2 separate regions of the Homo sapiens genome follow, and region 2 is linked to region 1. Evidence: fine-mapped expression QTL. A gene starts in region 1. The other region holds a variant in brackets. All regions are shown on one strand. Distances are between the middles of the regions. Region 1 holds the start of MANBAL (mannosidase beta like). Region 2 overlaps MANBAL (mannosidase beta like).

The links. PIP is the estimated chance that this variant, and not a neighbour inherited with it, causes the effect. A credible set is the group of variants that fine-mapping cannot tell apart.
Region 2: its variant is the best candidate, but not a certain one, in a credible set for the expression of MANBAL in whole blood (TOPMed, PIP 0.60).

What each region holds. Positions count from the first base shown.
Region 1 is chr20:37,287,085-37,291,470 of GRCh38, forward strand. MANBAL (mannosidase beta like) reads left to right here and starts at 2,571. Exons shown (of 3, transcript NM_001003897.2): 1 at 2,571-2,602. RefSeq lists enhancers at 2,359-2,468, 2,541-3,445.
Region 2 is chr20:37,307,662-37,312,047 of GRCh38, forward strand. All of the region lies in intron 2 of MANBAL (mannosidase beta like), which reads left to right. Among named protein-coding and RNA genes, the nearest start is that of MANBAL, 20 kb to the left of the region's middle. The variant A/G (reference allele first, on the strand shown) is at 2,701.

The sequences.
Region 1 (4,386 bases):
CCTGTCCTAAACATCTGCACCCTGCAGGCCTCAGTGTCACCCCCTCAGCTATTCTTAGGCTCCAAGCCGTTTCTCACTACCCAGCCTTTCCACCACCCATCGTGCTTTTTCCTCCTTCTCTTTGCCTGGCAAAGTCCTCCTCATTCTTCATTTCTTTTTTTGAGATGGAGTATTGCTTTGTTGCCCAGGCTGGAATGCAGTGGTGCGACCTCGGCTCACTGCAACCTCTGCCTCCTAGGTTCAAGCAATTGTCCTGCCTCAGCCTCTCAAGTAGCTGAGACTACAGGTGCACACCACCATGCCTGGCTAATTTTTTGGGTATTTTTTGTAGAGACGGGGTTTCGCCATGTTGCCCAGGCTGATCTCAAACTCCTGGGCTCAAGCAATCTGTCCACCTTAGCTTCCCAAAGTGCTGGGATTATAGACGTGAGCCACCACTCTTCATTTCTTACCAGAAATGTGATCTCATGGACGTCTTCCCTCATCACCTCTCTTTTGATTGTATCTCCCATGTTATTGCTTCTCTCATGGCTCCCCCTTCTTCCTTCCCAACACATCTCATGGTTTTTAAGTGTACATTTATCTGTGTGATTGATTAGTGGGGGTGACAGACATTGACCCCTAGTCTATAAGCACAGTCAGGGTAGGATCCCACCTACTCACCATTGTCTTCCCAGTTTCATAGTGCATGATCCAGAGTAGAAACTCCATAAATATTTTTTAAATGAATAAATTATGCATTTTGGGTCCCCCATGCCACCTCACATAGTATGGGATTAGTGAATGTTGAGTGTATTATTTGTCTTCTAAGAGACTGAATTCCTTTAGGGCAAGATAGGTCTCTCTCTCTCTCTTTTTTTTTTTTGGAGTCTCTGGTATCTAACCTCTGTTCCTTGATCCTCTATGTATGTTATCTAGGCTGCATAACCAATTATCCTAAAACTTAGGAGCTTAAAACAATAACATTTAGTATTTCACAATTTCTGTGAGGCAGGCATTCAAGTGGCATTGCAAGGTATTTCTGGCTCAAGGTTGCTCTTGAGTTTACACTGAAGATTTTGGCCAGGCCACAGTCATTTGAAAGCTTGACTAGGACTGCTGGAGCCACTTGGCTCATACACATGGCTGGCAAGTTGGAGCTGGTTGTTGGCAGGCAGCTCAGTTACTCCCCATGCGAGCCTCTCCATAGGACTGCTTGAGTGTCTTCACAACATGGATTCCCCATGAGCAATCAAGACAGAGGAAAGAGGAAGTTGCAATGTCTTTTATGACTTTATCTTGGAACTCGTGCTCCAAGATTTCCGCAATATCCTATGGGTTATACAGGTCAGTCTTATTCTTGGTGGGAGGTGACTACAGAGGGGTATGGATATCAGGAGCCAAGAATCGTCAGGGTTTATGGTGGAGGCTGGTTATCACACTCTCATCTAGGTTTCTTTTTCTCCTACTACTTGCCCCCCACCCCTTCTTAATCATGGAACACTGTTCTTTGCCTTCAAAAAACTTATCCTGTTATATGATTACACATTCATTTAATTAGTCTGTCTCCCTCCAACGGACTGTAAGCACCACAAGGGCAGAGACTGTATGTGTCTGCTTTAGCACTGTGTCCTCAGTTACAAGGACAAAGCATAGAGTACGCGCTCAGTGAATGCTTTTTGAATGAATTATAATGATTTGCTTCTGTCTGAATTACAAGAGGTGTTTCTGTTTGTCTCCTCTCTGCATTGTAGGCTCCTAGCTCAGGACCTGGCATAAAATTAAGGAAATGAACGTGAGAAACACTTTTGAAATAGTGACAACACATCCAGATGAACATTTTGCAGGACAGCTACACACCCGTTTTAGCTCACCAGCTACCAGTTGTGACTGTGCTCTGCTCTGGGAGATGGCTTAGCTTTGCATAGGACAAAATTCTAATCTAGTTTCGCGCAGTTCTTACGAATTTGTTACAATGAGACGGGCCAAGCTATACAGCCCATTGCGATGAATAAGTAACTTTTTTTTTTTTTTTTTTTTTTTTTTGAGGAAGAGTCTCATTCTGTCGCCCAGGCTGGAGTGCAGTGGCGCGATCTCGGCTCACTGCAACTTCTGCCTCCCGGGATTCAAGAGATTCTCTTGCCTCAGCCTCCCAAGCAGCTGGGATTACAGGCGCCCGCCACCACGCCCGGCTAATTTTTGTATTTTTGGTAGAGACGGGGTTTCACCATGTTGACCAGGCTGGTCTCGAACTCCTGACCTCAAGTGATCCGTCCGCCTCGGCCTCCCAAAGTGCTGGGATTACAGGCGTGAGCCACCGTGCCCAGCCCCGAGAAGTAATTTCTTTTGTTTTCTTTTTAATTAAACAAAAATGTTGCTGAAACGAGCTGAGTGATATAGGAGCTTAAAGAATTGACAAGCTCTAGATTTCATTTCCCCAAACCTCTTTGTCCAGCTCGAACCCACAGAACAGGGACAAAAGTCGACAAAACCCAGCGGTGCCTCACCCAGAAACCTGGCAACGCGGGCGGAACAGAGCCGGTTGGTTGCTCAGTGCGCGTCACTTCCGGGACTCAGGGTCGCAGGGAACTACTTCCGGGGGAGCGGCGCGGCGGCGCGGGAGGTGAGTGCCGCAGCTTTGCGGTGGGGTGGGAACCGAGAGAGAGCCGTCCTCGGTGCGGTGGCCTGGCTTTCCCGGCCGGCCTGTCTCCAGCGGCGCCGCTTGGTGGGCCCGGCTGTCGCTCCGCTCAGGGCCTGAATACGTTCCCTCGGCGGTTGTTCGAAAGTTACTTCCGGAGGGGAATTTGAGCCCCCCGGGAGGCGGAGGGCCTCGCCTGGGGCAGCCCTGCGCTTTCGTGCGGAGGCTGGGCCAGAACCCAGGGCTCCTCATGGCCTGGTCCGGGCCTTTCCTCCCACGGGTGGAGCAGTAGGAGAACCCTGAGCTCCAGAGTGAATCTGGCCAGGGTTCGAATCCGTATGGCTCTCTTACCGTGGGCAAGTCACGGTTCCTCTCTGGCCCTCAGTTTCGTCTTCTAAAATGGACATACACGCTTGTACTGCGGGGTAAACCGAGGTGGTGAATGTAAAGCCCTTAGTAGGTGCACAGTCCATGTTTGTTGTACGAATTCTAAGAGAAGCGAGAAATGAATATGAGAAACATTTTTAAAATGGTGACAACACATTTAGATTAATAATTATATTTTGCAGGGCATCTGCACACCAGTTTCAGCCCACCGGCTACCAGTGTGACTTTGCCCAGAGAGGTGGCTTAGCTTTGCATTCTAATCTAGTTTTGCGTGGTTCTTAGGAATTTGTTTTAATGGGACGGGCCAGGCTGTACAACCCATTGCCATAAAGCGGTAACTTCTTTTTCTTTCCTTTTTTTTTTTTTAAAGCCATTCTATTTATTTATTTAGAGACGGAGTCTCTCTCTCGTCCACGCTGAAGGGCAGTGGCGGGATCTTGGCTCACTGCAACCTCCGCTTCTTGGGTTCAAGCGATTCTCCTGCCTCAGCTTTCCGAATAGCTGGGATTACAGACGTGTGCCACCACGCCCGGCTAATTTTTGTATCTTTAGTAAAGACAGGGTTTCACCATGTTGGCCAGGCTGGTCTCAAACTCCCGACCTCAGGTGATCCACCCGCCTCGGCCTCCCAGAGTGTTGGGATTATAGGCGGGAGCCACCACACCCGGCTTTTTTTTCTTTTTAATTAAAAAAAAGTTGAAATAGAGATGGAGTCTCACTATGTTTTCCTGCCTGGTCTTGAACTCCTGGAGGCAAGATATCCTTCCTCCTGGACCTCCCAAAGTGTTTGGGATTACTGGCAAGAGCCACTGTGCCTGGCCTAAAACAGTAACTTCTGACACTGGTTTCTATTCCCCAGTCTGTTTTCAGCTGAATTTTCACAATAGAATTTAAAGTTACTTCATTAGAAGCCAAGAATGGCCTACCAGCACAGTACACAACATTGGGAGATGAAGGCCTGTGGCAGTCGTGAAATCTGAGTTTTTCAGTCTTAAGAGAAGATTTAGTATTTGCTAAGTCTTGAGAGCTATACTTGTCTCAGTGGTTTTTTATTTATTTGTTTTGAAATGTTGACCCATTCTTTTTTTCCCCAATAACCTTTTTGTTTTAGAATAATTTTAGATTTACAAAGTTATCGCAAAGATACTTCAGTGAGTGCCCATATAGCCCACGTTTCCCCTATTACTAATATCTGAAATGTCACAATTACTGAACCAATATTGATACATTATTATTAACTCTAATCTGTACTTTATTCACATTTCCTTAGTTTTTCCCTAATGTCCTTTTTCTGTCCTGGTATTATCCAGGGCACCCTATTACATTTAGTCATCATATCTCTTTAGGCTCATCATCTCTGTGATCGTTTCTCAGACTTCCCT
Region 2 (4,386 bases), 21 kb after region 1:
CAGGAGAATCCCTTGAACCCGGGAGATGGAGGTTGCAGTGAGCTGAGATTGTGCCACTGCACTCCAGCCTGGGCGACAGAGCGAGACTCCATCTCAAAAAAAAAAAAAAGGAAACCAAACAAATACAGCATTATTACTTGAAACCCAAGAATGAGTTGCTGAGTTTTGCAAGGGAAATGAAGATCCAGGAAAGACGTGAACTTGGAGCATACCCAACCTGTTGAAGTAGTTTCCGTGCAATGTAGATAGACTGAGAAGGTGCGGGTGCTGTCCTAGAACCCAAGAGCAGGAGCGCCGCAGGGCCTCCGGAAGTGGTGGGAACTGGGACTTACTGCTCCTCACTGGCATGCCCTCTGCCTCCCTTCCTGTCTCCCTCCTGTCTTTTGCTTTTCTAACTAGGACCCTGCTTCTCTGCTTGCTGGCCCTGTGGTGAGATGCAGCACAGCCACTAAACACAACCATGCCTTCCTGCTGGTCTCAGTTCCAGCATCCCCAGGGAAGGAACTGTGGCTGACCCAGCTTGGGACAGCTGTGGCCAGTGGAGGGGAGGGGAGGGTTCTGTGGAGTGACCTCTGAGTGAGGATGGGAAGGTCCATTCCCACAGGGGGACTGCTAGGCAGACAAAGCTGGGGTCTCCCTTTCTCTCCCTCTCTCAAGTGACAGGCAGAGCAGTGGGCAGGAGACCAGGAGAGTGTGGCCTCCCTGAAGTCCACCGAGTGGTTCATGGAGAGCACATGTGACACCAGTTCCCTGGAGAGGATTGGGGAAAGCCAGCCTAGTCTGACACCACCACTGTGTTCCAGCTGCCGTCCTTCAGAGTTGGGTTTCAGTAGAAGAAAGTTCTCAATAGGGAGTTCCTGGCTTTCTAGGGAAGTCCTGGGATAGGTTTGAGGGGTCTGTGATCCCCCTCAAATTGTGTACAAGAATGTGAGGTTTTATATGCCTAGGCACATTTTCTGGGGGAGATGGTCCATAGCCTCTCTACATGGAGTGCAGTGGGAAGTGGGGGACAGGTTTCTTCTCAAGGTGGGGAGCCTGTCTTCCTCCTCCCCATAACCCTCCTCCAAGCCTCTTCCGGATCGATTTCTACACAGAGTGTTGATTCAGCCAGATAAGGTGCACGAAGGTAACTAAGCAAGTGGGTGTAGACTTTGAGTTCAGCAACTTGTGTGGCAGATAGTCAGTCATACACGGTAGTGAATCAGAAACTCTCCTAGTTTCAGTGTTGACTATTCTCATCTGTTCATATGCTTATAGTGCATCTCGTCAGCTCACAGCCAGCTGCCTGCTTCTAGAAGGCAGGTCCTTTCACTTCTACTCTGCCATGTTTGTTGATTGCCACCGTCTCATATTAGTGGGGACTCTTCCTGTTGCAAGTTCAGAAACAGCTCCAGCAGCTTCCCCGAATGGAAACAGTATTGGCTCTTGGAACTGGGAATTTCAAAGGACAGCTGGATTTAGGGGTTCAAGGGGTCTCCAGGGCTTCATGTGTCTCTCTCTCTCCTGGCTTTCCTGGGAGTGCTGGCTTCCTTCCTAGGCCCTTGTTCTGTGTTGGGAAAGATGGCTGCAGCAGCCACAGTCAGTGCCCTTATCAGTCGGGATTGACAGGTGAGAGAAGCCATTTCTCTGCCTCTCCTCACCTTCTGAGTCTCATGGAAGGCCTCTCCTTGGCCACATACACCTTGTCTCACAGGTGGGAAGCAGGAATGAGTGCTGTCTCTGGCCAGGCCACATTTAGCTGCCTACTCTTGTGACCCCAGTGACTGAGAGTCCCCCAGACCCCCATGGGATAGGGAAAGGGCAGGGTCCCCATGGAAAAGAGGTGCTGGGAAGACAGACAGCCGGTGGCCAGCATTGCGATCTAGTGGAGGACTCGCCACGGGCGATGGTGAGAGTGGTGGCTTTCAATATGATGCCCGTGGAGACTTCACAACCAACCAGAAAGCCCTGCAGTGTTTAGACCCCTGATGATGTTTTGGCTCATCAGTATGGTGAGCCACCTGCACCTACTGCACCACAGGTGGCTCATTCCTGTGGTGCAGTAGGACAGTGGCCTAGAAGGTCAGGACTCTTCTGGAAAATTTTGCACAAGGGTCTTGATTTTAAACGAGGCCGCTAGTTGCCAGTGAGGCCTGCCGTAAATAAATAATGAGCCCCAGGCAAGCATCCACCCATTCTCAACACCTCAGGACACAGACTCACAGAAGCAACTGTGCATTTCTGCTCTGTGTGGTTTTAAAGCTTGGGAGGAGGTTGCAGTTGAATTGAGAGGCAGGCTGTTTTTTACTTAATGACCCGTTCTGGAGAGATTGCCGTGTGATGAGGGTATAAACATGCTTCCACCAGCCTGTGGTCTGGAGATGTGTACCGACCGGTTCTTGGGAGAGACGGCTGGACACACAAGGAGCCACAGAGCAGCCAGTGGGGAGGGCCAGCATAGTCGTGCTGAATTGTGTCTGGAATGAGCTCCCAAGGCTGTTCTTTCTAATCACAGTTCTCCCCGCCTGCCAAGCGCATCCTGGACTCCGTGTCTCCGTTTGCCTTGTTGAGTCCACATGGATGGCCTTCCTTGCTCTCTGTTTCAGCCAGTCCTATCTTTCCTCAAGGCCACTGCTAGTTTCATCTCTGCGAGGCCTTCTCAGCTCCCACCCTGTCTCAGGCCCTCATGGCCCGCTGGGATGGGCAGCACCTTCAGCGTTA[A/G]GCAGACTGGTCTGAGTGCTGACCTGCTTTTAGTCTGCCTCCGTCATCAGAAGAGGATATTCCTGCCTAACTCCATTGTTCTTAGAGGGTCATGCAAGATAAGGTGCACGAAGATGCCTGAGTATAGCACCTGGGCCATTTTCAAGGAAAGAGTGGCCTGCGTAGAATGACATTTTGTCCTGATTTACAGGACTAAATCCACATTGAACTGTAGAGTGGAAATCATAAAATTCAATGCACTTTTCATGCTGGAAGGGATATGATGTATTGTGGCACACATTTGATTATTTGGATCTGATGAATAGCAGCAATTTTCTGGCCTGGTAAGCGCTGCAGAGCTGCTTCATTATTGATGGGGCCTGTGTCCACAGAGGACGCCACTGTGAACCCAGGAGCCACCTGGCCTCGGGAGTTTTCTTTTATATGTGACAGTGTGATTGCTGAGGAAACTTGAGGCTCGCTTGAGAGGAGGCGCAGTGCTCCCAGATTTAAAGGCAGGGCTGTCGGCTTTGTAGTCTGCCGTCTGTGTGGCTGGTACGGGCAGCGTACATTTGAGGAGAAATGAAAAGGCAGCCCTTAATTGAGAGTCATTCTTGTCAGTGAAGAACTTGGAGCTACAGGCCCTGTGTGGCTGGGACCCCAGGGCCCAGGTCATGTGGGTCACGGCCGCCTTTGCTTCCCTGCAGCTTGCATGGGGCCGTCACCTGGCCTCAGGGAGCCTGAGTGGCCTTGCCAGTGGAGTGTGGCTCGTGGTGGCTGGCTCACCAGGGCGATGGAGAGGCTCGGTGAGCATCCACATGGCACACAGCCACTAAGTGTGCGTTCTCATCTTCATTCCCCGTGGCACAGTGCCCACATGTACTGGGTGCAGGTAGAGATACAGAGGAGGAAAGGGAGCAGAGTACTGGGAGACACTGGCTGGCCAGTATCTCAGGGTGACAAGAGTAGGCTGCACGACGGGGCCTGCCTGGAGACAGGGGCCAAGACCGAGCAAGAGGCCTGGAGCCCCTGCTGGGTGTCTTGGAATTTATCTCACACAAAGGGGAACCAGCAAAGTTTTTGAAGGAGGAAACAGACACGATTGGGATTGTTGTTGTCATTGTTTTTTTTATTTGTTTGTTTGTTTTTGTTTTGAGCGAAACTTTTTTTGAGTTTTGCTCTTGTTGCCCAGGCTGGAGTGCAATGGCATGATCTCGGCTCACGGCAGCCCCCACCTCCTGGGTTCAAGTGATTCTCCTGCCTCAGCCTCCTGAGTAGCTGGGATTACAGGCATGCACCACCACGCCTGGCTAATTTTGTATTTTTAATAGAGATGGCATTTCTCCATGTTGGTCAGGCTGGTCTTGAACTCCCGACCTCAGGTGATCCACCTGCCTTGGCTTCCCAAAGTGCTGGGATTACGGGCGTGAGCCACCGCGCCCGGCCTGTTGTCATTGTTTTAGGAAAATCGACTCTGAAAGGAACGTAAAGTAAACTCTGACGAGCATGGGGAGGTAGAGGCACGGGCAGGAGAGTCTGTGGGAGGCAGATGCAACCAGTGGGGCCGGCAGGGGACCTGGGTCTGATCTGGGCAGTGGAGTGTGTCCAGAGGGGACTGGCTGGGTCTAGAGCCCGTTGGAAAGCGGAATGGACAGACCTTGGGGACAGGTTGGATGCTGAGAACTCATAAATGACTTGGAGGTATCT